4 linked regions of the Homo sapiens genome follow. The protein of the gene in region 4 interacts with the protein of the main gene of each other region in a pairwise test. Each region holds a gene or a part of one and is shown on either strand. Other genes may lie near its edges. The genes, in order: IGSF21, GBP2, DEPDC7 and SEPHS1.

The links.
Region 1: the proteins of SEPHS1 (region 4) and IGSF21 interact in a two-hybrid assay, tested with the Homo sapiens proteins (one large-scale study listed by BioGRID and IntAct).
Region 2: the proteins of SEPHS1 (region 4) and GBP2 interact in a two-hybrid assay, tested with the Homo sapiens proteins (one large-scale study listed by BioGRID and IntAct).
Region 3: the proteins of SEPHS1 (region 4) and DEPDC7 interact in a two-hybrid assay, tested with the Homo sapiens proteins (one large-scale study listed by BioGRID).

The regions. Positions count from the first base shown.
Region 1 is NC_000001.11:18,110,654-18,114,322, forward strand, and holds part of IGSF21 (immunoglobulin superfamily member 21 precursor), read left to right. Parts: intron 1-3,669. UniProt on the Homo sapiens protein: Involved in synaptic inhibition in the brain. Selectively regulates inhibitory presynaptic differentiation through interacting with presynaptic NRXN2.
Region 2 is NC_000001.11:89,108,998-89,112,666, reverse strand, and holds part of GBP2 (guanylate-binding protein 2), read left to right. Parts: coding exon 1-195; intron 196-2,400; coding exon 2,401-2,503; intron 2,504-2,796; coding exon 2,797-2,990; intron 2,991-3,669.
Region 3 is NC_000011.10:33,014,510-33,018,723, forward strand, and holds the start of DEPDC7 (DEP domain-containing protein 7), read left to right. Parts: upstream 1-1,368; 5' UTR 1,369-1,446; coding exon 1,447-1,519; intron 1,520-1,607; exon of another isoform or gene 1,608-2,030; coding exon of another isoform or gene 2,031-2,076; intron 2,077-4,214.
Region 4 is NC_000010.11:13,317,143-13,320,811, reverse strand, and holds the end of SEPHS1 (selenide, water dikinase 1), read left to right. Parts: intron 1-1,455; coding exon 1,456-1,670; 3' UTR 1,671-3,384; downstream 3,385-3,669. UniProt on the Homo sapiens protein: Synthesizes selenophosphate from selenide and ATP.

The sequences.
Region 1 (3,669 bases), on a different chromosome or scaffold from region 4:
GGCCGGAAGTCCTTGCCCTGGCTCCCCACTTCCCAGAATCAGACCCTCCAAAGGAGAAACCCACATTTCTCGGGACTCCTGGGCGTGTCCTGGGGCGTTTTCAACTCCTCCAGCCCCCGTGAACCGTGCCTGGGCACTTCTGGGAAGTCCTGCACTGGAGCCTGTGCAGTGGCGCCGGGCTGGGGATGGAGGAGTGGTCCTTAGCCGCTGTTCAGCCCTGGGAAACGTTCCGCTGAGAGCAGGGTGGGGGCAGCCCCAGTTAGGGGTAGCCCACGGCCCCAGCCGGGGGTCTCCGGGATTGCGCGGGCGGAGGTGGGCGGCCCTGCGGGTTCTCGGGTTCTCGGGTTCTCTGTCTCCGCAGCCGCGTGTCAGCAGGTGGATGGGATGGAGGGGCTGTCTCCGCTAGGCCGCCGCAACCGCAACGCCGAGACTGCGGGGGCTGTGCGCGCGCGAGCGGGTGTGACGACTTTATATATTTATCCTCCCTTCACACGCCCCCTTCCCACTGGGCGGGGCCTCTGGCGCGGCAGGGTTTCTTCTCCAGCCCCAACTGGGGGAGTTAAGGGCCCTAATCCCTTGCAGGCTGCCTCGCCCATGCCCCTCCAGCGTGGCCCCGCCCCTAGCCATAAACTCCACCCCTCTTCCACCCCATAACCGCTCTGCAAATGGGAGTTTTTCATTTTCGTGTTTTAAGTGCAGAGAATATTCGAGCTGGAGCGACCTCGGAGATCACTCACTTCGGTGGTTTTGAAACTTGTGTGTTTTTCTTTTTCTTTTAAGTAGGAAAACCCTTTTAGAGGAAACATTATCACCCTCCTAAAATCCCAATACCTTGAGCAAGATGATAGATCTTAAAGTAAAGCTGCCCTGGTGGATGCTGGGGATGAGGCCCACATCGAGCGCTCCTTCCACACAAGTCTTTCACAACCTCAAGACTGCTCCCTTCCTCCGCAGCTAGTATTGTAGCTGGGGTTTTGTTTTTCCAATAGCCCCGATTATATGGATCAGCTGCGATGTGTCAAGCAGGATGCTGGCTGCTGCTTCGCAGTCCTCATTCATGCTGCAAGATAGATTTAAGACCTTCTTTTCACAGATTAGGAAACTGAGGTTCTGAGGTTTAAGACTTGTTAATGACAGAAGTACAGGCTCCTTCCGCTCCCTCCTAGTTCTGCCCCAGGCTCCTCTTTCCGCTGAATCTTCCTTTCCTCTCTCTGGCCGCAAAGAATCCCTTGGGCAGGGCATGTGAGTAGAGAAGGACCCAGGTCATCTGAGTGATGCCTCAGATCTGCCTGCTACTCTGATATTTCAGAACGTCAGTCACAGACACACTTGAACTTCACTACACTCTGGCAAGATGGGCAGAGGACGGAGTAGGGGAAGGAGGTGGAGGAGCTTAGGGGACTTGCTTAGTTAGGTGCCTGGTTTATAGTGGTGTGTGACTTCAAAGGCAGAGACCGACAAAATAGAGGCTGTTTAGTTCTATTAACTGGGTTTCCTGGGATCTGTAGAGGTATTTAACCTAGGCAGTTGACAGCCTGGCTTACCACCTTGCCCGCCTCCGCTATAGCCCCAGGCCACCAGGAATTCATTTATTCATGCATCCAACAAATGCTTATTGTACACTATGTGCCAGACACGGTGCTGAGCATTGGGAAAACGGCCCTGAGCTTGGTAGAGGAGTCCCCTGCCTCTATGGTGTTTAAGGCTCAGTGGGAAATTGATGCTTCATTTAGAGGGAGGAAGGGGCTATTATCTCTCTCTGGCCCTAACTGAGCTAGGTGTCACGCCATGTGCTTTATCTTTCTTGTCTTACAGAATCCTTACAAGCACCCTGAGAAGTAAAATGAAGTCCATTTTGTAGATGAGGAAACTGAGGCTCAGAGAGGCTAGGTGACTTTGCCAAGGCTGCAGAGTCATTGAATGGCAAGCAGGAATTCAGATACAGGGCCCTCTGACTCCCTGGCCTGTGCTTCCTCCCTCCATGCTCTGCTGTCTCCTGGTGATCATTTCCTGAGCCCCAGCCACATGGATGTGTCCAGTCTCCTGTCTGGATGCCTGACTCCTTCCCAAACCCACACTGAAATAGAATCATCCAGGGTGTTCATCTGCACAGATGGGAGAGGGAGTGTCCCTGAAAGCTATTGCCATCACCAAGAGAATGAATAGGCATCTGCTGTGGGCAGGGCACATGTGAAAAGAGCAAGGCCTATGAGTGTGATCCTCATCCCAGGGCAGCGAGAGACTGGGCATGTTTCCGAAAAGATGAACGACAATCTATTTTGTCCATCCTCCCTCTCCACCTCCTTTCCTCCCCCATCCACTCCTGTTCCCTTCCTCTCTTTTTTCTTTTTGCCTTCTTTTTTCTTTTTAAATAAAAGGAGGTTCAGGATCTTTTGTAAGTGGAGGAACTGGGAGTTTCAAAACCAGGTCTGAAGCAATCCAGAGACAGCTGCTTTTTCATCACTGGAAAGGGAGTACAGCAGCCCTTACTACTTGTAGGAGGCTGCAAAGCTGTTCATTTCAAATGATAAATGTCAGTGGTGGTAAAACACATGAGATCACTTCCTAGGAGGTGTCCTTCTTTAGGATGAAATTCCAGGGAAGATTGGGGTGGTGAGATCCTGGAACCCACCTTTATGCTACAGTGAGCTCCAGGAGTGGAGGGGGCTCATGTTCACTAAGACCCCCGGCTAAGATTCCATGGATGGAGCAATAAAGGTAGTGTGTATGGGGCTGGAGATGCAGGCCCTGTTCAGTCACCTCTGCAGCCCAAAAGAGCAGGAGAGACAGGTCGTGGGCAGGGTGTGGCTTGGGGGTGGGGTTTTTCTGAGACCCAGACTTTAGTCCCCTCCCAGGAAAGGAATCTGGTGTTTGGTTTTTCCACCAGCCTTTGTTACATCTTCTGGCCACATACTAAATTTGCTTTGGGAAATCACACCAACCCCGCACCCCACCCCCACCCCACCCAACACATAAATTGCATGACATCTTGGTGGGTGAAACTACTGGGTAAGGCATCCCCAAGATGGGCCCTGGAATCTGAATATTGAGCGGAGTGTCACAAAGACTGAGAGACACTAGAATGTCCCCCTTGCCCCTGGGACCCCCAGGAAACCGTCCTTTGTTGGTTTCCTGAGACTGATAATGATGGGACCTATCTCCCAGTGTACTGAGAGGGTGGAATCAGGCATTACAAGCAGAGCTCTTAGCTCAGTCCCGTGGGCTCTGATGCTTGTTACTAGTGTTAACCATGGTAACGATGAGTACCCGCTGAAGCAGCCCCAGTCCTTGCGTTACTCGACTTTTTCGTAGTGTTCTCATTGGTTACATTTTTTGGCTTGAGAGTCTAGTGTCAATTTCTGCTGCTTGCAAGGAAAGGATCCCATGTGATAACCTCTCTAGGTGTGATGACCAGTGCCAGCCTTGGAGTTGCCAGTCAGTGCACTCTTGGTAATGCACAGAGGATGGTTCATGGCCCTCTGGCTGGGGGTGACCAATCCCACCGCCTGCCCTCTGTCTTTCCCTGGAGTCTTGAGGCCCATTGAGTGCAGTGTGAGACTCAAGTTGTTCCCCGCTAGTAAAATGTACAGATGGAGGCCAATCTTATAGTGAACTTCCAATCCCCTGACCCACTAGACCCTGCTCCACCCAGGCAGGGACCCCATCTGG
Region 2 (3,669 bases), on a different chromosome or scaffold from region 4:
CGAGATGACTTTTGTAAGCAGAATTCCAAAGCATCATCAGATTGTTGCATGGCTTTACTTCAGGATATATTTGGCCCTTTAGAAGAAGATGTCAAGCAGGGAACATTTTCTAAACCAGGAGGTTACCGTCTCTTTACTCAGAAGCTGCAGGAGCTGAAGAATAAGTACTACCAGGTGCCAAGGAAGGGGATACAGGTAAACTACACGGTGGGTACCATTTCTTGGGACTCGCTGAGGGGATGCTTTTAAAGCCCACTGGGAAGAAGGTAAATGGCACTGCAACTGGTGCCTAGGGCCTCTGCCTTTCATTTTTCCATTTACTGATTCATTCAATAAGAGAGCCCACCATAACAGGAATTCCTCCTCAGAAGCACAGATGTAGCCCTCAAAAAGAGGTTTATCGAATTGACTCATTTATTTATTCATCTAGTCATTCAACAATTATTTATTTTGACCTAACTGTATACCAGGAACTTGTCAAGTTGCTGGGGATACGGCAGTTAAAAAAAAAAGTTCAAGCTCTGTCAAAGTACACACAGGCAATTAGCAAATGATAGCTTATGAACAAATAATAATAACAGTTAACATTTATGTTGCACTTACTGTGTTCCAGGAACTGGGCTGAGAGCGTTATTCATTTAATACTCAGAGCAATTCTATAAAATATGTATTACTAATATCCGAAATTTGTAATTTTTTTATTTTTTTACTTTTGTGGGTACATATGGTACATAGTAGGTGTATATACTTATGGGGTACATGAGATGTTTTGATATAAGTATGAAATGCACAATAATCACATCATTGAAAATGGGGTATTTGTCGACTCAGGTATTTATCCTTTGTGTTACAAACAATCCAATTACACTTTTTTAGTTATCTTAAAGTGTACAATTAAATTATTATTGACTATAGTCACCCTTTTGTGCCATCAAGTTTTATGCTCTCAAGTATGTTGTGCTATACTTGATTTTATTCATTCTTTCTAGTTGTTTTTACCCATTAACCATCCCCACCTCCCTCCCCCCACCACCCCATTACCCCCTCAGCCTCTGACAACCATCCTTCTACTCTCTATCTTCATGAATTCAATTGTTTTGATTTTCAAATCCCACAAATAAGTGAGAACATGCAATGGTTTTCTTTCTGTGCCTGGCTTATTTCATTTAGCATGATGACCTCAAGTTCCACGTTCTTGCAAATAACAGATCTTATTTTTGTTTATCAGTTCTAATAGTTTTTTTGGTGTGGAATCTTTAGATTTTTCCAAATATAAGATCATACCATCTGCAATAAAGGAGAGTTTGTCTTCTTCATTTCCAACTTGGATGCCCTTTATTTCTTTCTCTTTACTGATTGCTCTCGCTAGTATTTCCAATAGTATGGCAAATAACAGTGGTAAATGTAGGCATATTTGTTGTATTCCAGATGTCAGAGGAAAGTATTTTTGTTGTTCTTCCCATTCAGTATGATAATAGCTGTGAGTCTGTCATACATGGATTTTATTATGTTGGGGTATGTTCCACCTATACCCAGTTTTTTTAATGTTTTATTAATGAAGGGATATTGAATTTTATCAAATGTTTTTTCAGCTTGAATTGAAATGATCATATGGTTTTTGTCCATTCTGTTGATAGAATTTATCACATTGATTGATTTGCATATGTTGAGCCGTCCTTGCATCCCAGGGATGAATCCCACTTGGTCATGATGAGTGATCCTTTTAATGTATTGTTGAATTTGGTTTGCTAGTACTTTATTGAGGACTTTTGCATCAATTTTCATTAGAGATATTGTAGAGTTTTTAAAATTATTTCATTTCATATAGGTTTTGGGGGGAGCAGGTGGTGTTTGGTTACATGAATAAGTTCTTTAGTGGTGATTTCTGAGATTTTGGTGTACACTGTACCCAGTGTGTAGTCTTTTATCCCTTGCCCCCTCTCCTTTCCCACAAGTCCTCAAAGTCCACTGTATCATTCTTATGCCTTTGTGGCCTCATATAATAGCTTATCTCCAATTTATGTGTGAGAACATAGGATGTTTGGTTTTCCATTCCTGAGTTACTTCACTTAGAATAATAGTCTGCAGTTCCATCCAGGTTGCTATGGATGCCATTGTCTTTTTCCTTTTTATGGCTGAGTAGTATTCCATGGTGTGTGTGGGGGGGTATTATATGTTTTACATATATATGAAACAATTTTTTATCCACTCATTAATTGATGGGCATTTGGGCTCATTCCATATTTTTACAATTGCGAATTGTGCTGCTATAAACATGCGTATGCAAGTATCTTTTTTGTGTAATGACTTATTTTCCTCTGGGTAGATACCCAGTGGTGGGATTGCTGGATCTAACCCACAATCACTCTTTCTTCATTCTACCTTTCTCTGTATAACCAGGCCAAAGAGGTGCTGAAAAAATATTTGGAGTCCAAGGAGGATGTGGCTGATGCACTTCTACAGACTGATCAGTCACTCTCAGAAAAGGAAAAAGCGATTGAAGGTGAGAACAGCTGAAAACACTCTACATGGTCGGAAAGCTCTCAAAATGTTAGTTAGCAATATTGGTCCACCTGGAATTATTATTGTAGAGAAAGAATGGCAAGTATCATTCATAGTTCTATGAGAGTTTTCTTAACTAATCTGTATGATCATTGGTTTTCTGGTTACCCAAGGCAAAATTACAAGAAGTTTTCTCAATGATGTAAGGATAAGACAAACAAAAACGAGGGAAAGGAAAAGGGAACACCTACAATTGAATATTCATATCTTTTTCTGCTTATTTTTCTTCCACAGTGGAACGTATAAAGGCTGAATCTGCAGAAGCTGCAAAGAAAATGTTGGAGGAAATACAAAAGAAGAATGAGGAGATGATGGAACAGAAAGAGAAGAGTTATCAGGAACATGTGAAACAATTGACTGAGAAGATGGAGAGGGACAGGGCCCAGTTAATGGCAGAGCAAGAGAAGACCCTCGCTCTTAAACTTCAGGTATTCAATTGCATCATCTCAATTTTCTCTTCCAGTGCCCCATATCGAAAATGAAGTATAAGGTTGAGAACCTAATGCCTCCCAAAAAAACTTTCTAGCCCAGACACTACTACATTTTTCCTTCCCTAACTATTTTTATGCCAGTCATCTCTGGTTAGTAAAGACTGTTTACTTGCAGGATACAATCACATGGAATTCTTTATTATGCTATCACTAATAAACATTGCTAGGCACTGCACAAGTATTTTACATTATGTGATCAAATTTTCCTTTAATGGTAGAGGAACTATTAGTTTCTCATTTGCTAAATGAAGTAATTATAATCTCATGAGCAGTAAGTAACTTTTCTGCATCAGACTACCTAGAGAAATATCTAGCCAGTCTTTCCTACTGAGAGGGATCCATGGGGATTTTGTTTCTGTTATGCCTGCTAAGACTTTATGTCTGGAAGCACTGTTATGAGTAGAAAGATTCCCTAACCAGGCCAGGTGCAGTGGCTCACACCTGTAATCCTAGCACTTTGGGAGGCCGACGGGGGCGGATCACCTCAGGTCGGGAGTTCAAGACCAGCCTGACCAACATGGAGAAACCCCGTCTCTATCAAAAATACAAAATTAGCTGGGCATAGTGACGCATGCCTGTAATCCCAGCTATGCAGGAGGCTGAGGCAGGAGAATCG
Region 3 (4,214 bases), on a different chromosome or scaffold from region 4:
ACCGTGCCTGGCCAGCTTTTTCTAACACTAAGCAGCAGCAACTGGCCCCCACCTCCCACCCACAAACCCAAGTCCCCAGGGGCAGCTTCTTAGTATGTATTCTCTGAAACAATCCCATGTAGAAGCTCTTTCCAATAAGCTAAATAATGAACTCCCACTTAAACACCATTCTAATTTACACCTAAATCACACAAGCATCCTCCTTCTAAGAAGACGTCATAATCGTTTTGAAAATCATTGCAAAATTCCCAAACTTGAAAAAAAAGAAAAAAAAAAGGGCAAGTGTCTGGCAATTGGATTATTGGTCTCTAAGACCACTCATCCTTTCAGAGGTATCCAGCATTGGATCCCTGGCCTGGCTTCAACTTCCAAGTAACTAAGATGTGTCCCATTAATAGCCCTTCCTCCTTTTCTCTCCTCACCTTCACTCCAACCGGCAGCAAACTGTCCCTACCCACCCGACCCACAGTTCCTTTGGAGGCAGCACAGATTTCCTGGCAGCCAGTCCCAGGGTCTTTCGTTGCTGCCCTCCTGTGACCTCTAGACATTGCTCTCCTGGGCCACATAGGATTTGTTTGTTCTGCACAGGTAGGGATGTCTGAAAAACTCGATTATTATTGTTATTATCACTATTACTACTACTACTATGACATAATTTTAAGCACTTACGTTCCGGACGCAGTTACTAAATGCTGAACCTGAATTGGTTCCTATAAACCTCGTTAAAAAACAAACAAACATCTCAGTGAAGCAGGTACTAAACCTACCCCCGCATCACAGGTGAGGACACCGACGCACAGAGCAGTTAGGCAGCTTGCCAGGTTCCCGACTTTTTCTATTTCTTTTTTTTTTTTTTTTTTTTTTGAGACGGAGTCTCGCTGTGTCGCCCAGGCTGGAGTGCAGTGGTGGATCTCGGCTCACTGCAACCTCCGCCTCCTGAGTTCAAGCGATTCTTGTGCCTCGGCCTCCCGAGTAGCTGGGATTACAGGCGCCTGTCACCAAGCCCAGCTAATTTTTGTATTTTTAGTAGAGAAGGGGTTTCGCCATGTAGGCCAGGCTGCTCTCGAACTCCTGACCTCAGGTGCTCTACCTGCCCTGGCCTCCCAAAGTGCTGGGATTACAGGCGTGAGCCACCGCGCCCGGCCTGGTCCCGAGTTAATCTACGGCAGGCCGCGGTTCGAATCCCGCTGGTGTGAGCCGCGGGCCGCGTAGTGCCGGCCCAGGGAACCGCTTTGTCCCCGACCACCGCTCGCGTGGCATCGCGCCCGAGGAAACTTGGATCGCTGGCGCCGCGGGCTACGTTCAGTGGTTGCCAGAGAGACACGTGACCGGCAGCGGGGGCGGGGCCTGCAGGGAGCCACGCCCCGCACAGTTAACAGACGGGCGCTCAGGGAGCTAGGGAGCTGTGAAGCTGCTGGAGGAGTTGGCGTCCGGGGAGCAAGGGCCATGGCCACCGTGCAGGAGAAGGCTGCTGCGCTGAACCTCTCGGCTCTCCACAGCCCCGCGCACAGGCCTCCGGGTAGGTGCCGAGGACTGCCGCCTGGGATGGCGCGGGGCGGGCTGGGGTGCGCGGGCTGGGTCCCGGCGCGGGGCGGGCGGCGTGGGGCGTTCGGCCGCCTGCGCCTGTCAACGGCCGGCTGGGCGAGCACAGCACAGCTGCGACCACTTGGCCAACGCCCCCGCCGAGCGGGCGGATCGAGTTCCTCTCTGGCTGGTGGGCTGCAAGCGGCAGAGCCCGCCCGCACAGCCCAGCTTTTTTCTTTCTACCCAGACTCTCAACTTGACCGCGCGTTGGTCTGTGCGCCCGCTAACGTGCCAGGCACGCGCCGGGGAGCTCCGGGATATGCTCCGCGGTGCTACCGGTGACAAGTGTGGTATCTGGAATTTGTGTAGTTCTTTGCCCCCTGTCTCAACCACAAACCTTGACGACACAGTATGGCCAGGGGCCGAGCTCCTCCCTTGCCCACTTTGTTCTCCAGACTGCTAGGAGTCAAGAGTCAGCTTGTCTCCCCAGACTCTTCCTGGGAGGGATGAGAGGTTTATGTGAGTTCTACTGGCAGGAATTTGGCATAAAAGGTATTTATTAACACTTTATGTATAAGCAGTATTTTAGTGAATAGAAGTTTTTGGCTAAAAAAACAGTTACATGAAATTAGGAGGGAAGTTGGCAAATTCTGCCACGGGCCTAATCGTGTCTTTTGGGGGCAGTTGATTTAGGATTCTGGTTTCTTTAAATGTTCAAACACATGAAGAGAATCGGATATCACTTCTAAAATGCTGGTTATAGCAGATCTACAACCCAGTTAATAGGGGTGACTCAGATAACTGTTAAGATACTCAGATAACCCTTGGCTTTTTTCTTTTGGTTAAGTTACAACTTTTTCCCCTTTCTGGAGCTCCAGTCTGGGATGTCGTAGGAATTAGTTCCCTTTCTGACAAAAGCCTTTCATTTGTAAAAACACCAACCAGTGAAACTGTGATTCCTTCCTCTGGGTCAAATGGGTGCTTCTCAGTGGCCCCACTCTTGTGTTTGACTTACTCACTAATGCTCATTTTAATCTTCAAAATGCTAACGACAGATTATGGTAGAGAACCATTTTTCACTTGTCCTTTTCTAAGAAAAATCATAATATTGACCTTAGTCTGCTTCCATGTAAAGGATTCAGGTAAGCACATAGTGGCCACATTGAGAATGTCTCCTTGATTTATGTTGTGAAGAGAAGACAAATGCTAAGACATTTGGGAATTTAAAACCAAATGACATTGAAAACAGTCTTGAGAAATCTTTTGGGCCCACTTACTCAGTGAAGGAAATTCCCAAATGTCACCTGCTTAAAATAAAAACATGGTACCCTGTTTTCTCTAATAGCTGAAATACCAATTCTGGAGCTTTGGGCATTTGTGAACAGGTTCTTAGATGGTGTAAGGAAGTATGTATTCAGAAATTAAGTAGATAACTCTCTAAGGGAAGAGTTGAAGTGCTGGTTATCAGGAATCAAAGGAACACTGTCCTCGGCACACTAGCTGCAGTGGACGGAGAGGGGCCCGCTGTTGTTCTCACTCGTTTTGCTTGCTACCGCTGGAATCCCGACCTGGTAACATTTGTTAGCCTTTCTTTCACCCTTTAGTTGCCTTGTCATAGTTCCAGTGAGCAAGGTAGTGGGAGCACACGGTTATTGGTTCTTTGCCATTCTCTTTCTGTGTGCTCTGGCAGGCAGCTTTGTACTTTTGTTTCTCCACCGATTAGTAACTCTCACTTACCTTAAAGGGGCTGTAATGACCAGGGACCTGATTTATGTACAAGAAATGAGATCTATATGCCAGTCTTCAGCCAGTATGTCAAAAACACTTGTCTTTTAATACGACAAACAAGAAAGTAGTCTGTTATCCTGTTATCCCTTTATACTGTAACCTAATTCTTTGAGTTTGCCTGGTATCACTTTTCCAGGGAGCTCAAAGTACTTCCCATATGCTGTCTCATTAATGTATGTGAATTAAAGCAGAGACCAATGTCTGCTTTTGCTGATAATTCTCGTAGATATTGTAAATTTTTCTTGTTGGTAGACTTCTTTTACCTACCTGCAGCCTTCTTTTCAGAGGCAATCGCAGTCTTCAGCATGACGCCTCTAATGCCAACTAGCAGGAAAATAAACTTTGGACTACCAGAACCAATATCCAGTAAAAGTGTTGTAATCTTGGGATCATAGTATAGAAAATTTTTCCACTCAGTCACAACTGTCAAGTTTTAACACCATAAACACAATTCTCTTTACATTTATCTATTAATATTTTCATGAGGTTTTGGTTACTATCCAACAAATGTCCTTTTTCTTTGTTGTCTTGACAATTCTTTGTGTGAGTAATATTTTAAAACCTCTTTTGAAAAAATCTTTCTTAAAATTCTCTTAAATCCTAAATGGTCTAGGATTTATAGATGTGTTATTTTCTGATGAAAAGTTAAATCCTCTGGTATGTGTCACATCTTGTCTTCTCATCTCCTGTTGGCCTTTATGTGATTGAATACTATTCAGAACTTGACATTATCATCCAGGTAGTAGGAGTAAATAAAAGGTAAACTCCTAAGGTTGGGGACTGTGTCCTCTGAGTTCAGAGGAAGGAAGAGGAAGAAAGATACCTCCCTTTTCTTTCTACTTTTAAAATAAAATTTTAGATTCACTAAATAGTATGGTCCATTTGTCATAATTAATGAACCA
Region 4 (3,669 bases):
TTGTCACCCAGGCTGGAGTGCAATGGCGCGATCTCAGCTCACTGCAACCTCCCCCTCCCCGGTTCAAGCGATTCTCTTGCCTCAGCCCGAGTAGCTGGGATTACAGGGCTGTGCCATCATGCCCAGCTAATTTAGAGACGAGGTTTTACCATGTTGGCCAGGCTGGTCTTGAACTACCTCCTGACCTCAGGTGATCCACCCGCCTCGGCCTCCCAAAGTGCTGGGATTACACGTGTGACCCACCATGCCCAGCCACAAGGTTTTTACATTTTGTAGAAGTAGACTACAGTTTTTCCTCATCATCTTATTTCTACTTAGAGAAATAAATTTTGGCCCGGTGCAGTGGCTCACGCCTGTAATCCCAGCACTTTGGGAGGCCAAGGCGGGTGGATCACGAGGTCAGGAGATCGAGACCATCCTGGCTAACACGGTGAAACCCTGTCTCTACTAAAAATACAAAAAATTAGCCGGGTGTGGTGGCGGGCGCCTGTAGTCCCAGCTACTCAGGAGGCTGAGGCAGGAGAATGGTGTGAACCCGGGAGGTGGAGCTTGCAGTGAGCCGAGATCACACCACTGCAATCCAACCTGGGAGACAGCGAGACTCCGTCTCAAAAAAAAAAAAAATTTATGGCCTATTTACTGGAAAGAGCAACAAAGGTTTATTTTAATGTATTTTATACTGTTTGTCTTTTGGATATAATGACAGAGTCATGACTGGAACCTAGATACTTTGGGGCATACACTGTTTCATGAGTCTTAAATTTTCTAAAAATACAAAAAAGCATTCTCGGTAAAATGAGAGAGTCGATGTAGAGAATCAAAAGTTCCCTTTTGTTTGTCAATATTTGTTTCAGTGTAGCTTGGAAAAAATAGCTACCACATGGGTTATTGAAGCCCCAAACACCTTACCCCTACACAGTGTTATGTGGTTCACGAATAGGTCATTTTCACAGTTGAAAGTTGGAGTGTATATGTGTGTGTGTTAGGAGTTTACTAGCAATTGCTTAATTACAGCATAGAACAGGCCTCTTAGGCTGGGAGTGGTGGTTCATTCCTGTAATCTCAGCACTTTGGGAGGCCAAGGCAGGTGGATTGCTTGAGTCCAGGAGTTTTAGACCAGCCTGGACAACACAGTGAAACCTTGTCTCTACAGAAAATTAGCCAGGTGTGGTGGTGCACACTTGTAATCACAGCTACTGGGAAAGCTGAAGTGGGAGGGTCACCTGAGCCAGGACATTGAGGCTGCAGTGAGCTGTGATTGTACCACTGCACTCCAGCTTGGGCCACAGAGTGAGACCCTGTCTCAAAAAAAAGCTGCTTAGTTGAATGGGAAGAGCTACTTGCATATAGGTGGCAGCAAGTTGTTGATGGAAGTTGGATCTCTGCAGAAGCAGCAGAGGCAGAGAAGCTGCTGTCATGTCAACACTAACAGTCATTCTTGTTTTCTTTTGCCAGGCGGCCTTCTGATCTGTTTACCACGTGAGCAAGCAGCTCGGTTCTGTGCAGAGATAAAGTCCCCCAAATATGGTGAAGGCCACCAAGCATGGATTATTGGGATTGTAGAGAAGGGCAACCGCACAGCCAGAATCATAGACAAACCCCGGATCATCGAGGTCGCACCACAAGTGGCCACTCAAAATGTGAATCCCACACCCGGGGCCACCTCTTAATCTAGACAGAAATAGCTGTTTGGTTTTGTTTTTAAATAGATCTATTTCCCTTATCACTTCAATTAAAGACTATAAACAACAAAAATCTCATTGTGTCTACACATCGGGGTGACCTTAGGTCGGTTTGTAAGTGGATACAATTAATAAAATAAAATCCATTGCCTTTTTTTCCTGTTACATTAACTGAAGATGCACCTAATCTTGAGGCAGCTTCTGAGTTGAGAATTATATTGTTATCCAATACTGTTGATTCATTTTGAATCTTTAGACACTTATCTCTTGCCGCATAGGCTTTTTAAAGGTGCTTTCACATAGCACAGGCATTACCCGTAGTCGTGTCAAATAGCAGTTGGTGTCTTCATTTTATGTATATTTATCATATAAGTCTGATTTTTTTTTTTAAGCGTCTTGAATGGTTTTCTGGAGAGACAGCATTGGTAAGTGGCACATGACGGTATCCCAGTCATAAGAGGGTTGCATGATTCCTTTGAGTGTTTGATTTGAAAAGCCTAGTCTTGTCTCTCAAGAGCATCTCGGACCCAGAACATTCTCCAGTAGTGCATTCAGTTCAACACAGCAAGTGCTTCATTGCATGGAAAACACTTTGAAGACAAAAAAGAAATCTTATTTCTTTTTTTGTAGCCTTCCTGATATTTACAGTAATACCATTAACTGTTTTATCGATAGCAAAAAAGGATACTTTTTGCAATGTTATTAGATGTTCTATAGTGCTACAAGGAATTGCCTTCCGAATGGAGGTTCATGTATAATACTCATTTACAATTCAATATATAATTACACAAATAATTTTTAAATATAATCAATAGTAAAGACTGTTCTGTGGATGGTAGTGTTTAATACATTTTCTATTTTGTACAGTGATTTCAGGCCTTTTGTTTTCTTAAAATCAGCAGCTGTTTGGCCTAATTCTTAGCATTATTTTGTCCTTTGCGCCAGTACTTTTTTGTGCACGCTTTTTGTGATCTGTGTTAAAAACCTGCATTGCCAACATTGCAGCTCGAACTTAAACTTGTTATTCAAATAAATATTTAATTTTTTAAATTGCTCTTGTATAATCAGATGCCCCTTTTAGTATTATTTTAGAAGCGTTGGGAGGGTTTTGCCTAAAGTACAATTTATCGGGAAAAACTAGATTTTAGTTTTATAAAACTTTTAAGTCTTTCATGGGACCTATATTTTCTTGAATTAAATTTTGTAGTTCTAGAATAAATAGGCAATCTAAAAAGGTGTTCTCTGTGTTATGTAAAGTGGAGGCTTCCTTATATTTTAACCTACTAAGCAATGAGGAGGGATTCCTGTCATTAAGCACAAGGGCGCTGGATCCTCAAGTGCCCATCTTCGTGAGAGAAAAAGCAGCACATCCTGCCCATTTCTGGTGCTTTCTGCTCACAGGCACCAAAGCTGCACATGTAAACTGACTTCTTGCCAAAGGAAATGACCCCTGGGAAGTTCAAGCTCCTGGAAGAGGCTTTAACTCGGACGCGCCCTCCTCCAGGAACCAGTGGGCAGGGCAGCCTTCATGCATGTGTAACTGGACCTCCAGCCATAAGCATGGTGTGCAGTATGGAAGAGCCTGCTACGGAACTGAAAGTGATTGGACATTTTATAGGAATTGATAGAGATGTTGGTCCTCAAAAGCTACAAACCAGTGGTCTGCAAAATAAAGTGTGTTGGAAACCTCTAGTGAGATAAACCTACTGTTGAGCTTTTTTTTTTTTTTTTTTTTAAATAACGATGACTGAACTTCAGTGTAGCCTGTGCCGTGAGAGCTGGTGTTTTCCTCAGTGGCAGGCCTATTGAGAGGAGGGAGCTAAGTGGAGTATGTACTTAAGGAAATAATATTTGTGAAGATTGATATTTATAAAGAGAAAATGTTGGGTACTTAGAGGTCCGTGTAAGTCTTATGATCCCAAGAGGAAGAATTTGTATTTAAAGCAGTGTTGGCTGGGCATGGTGGCTCACACCTGTAATATCAGCA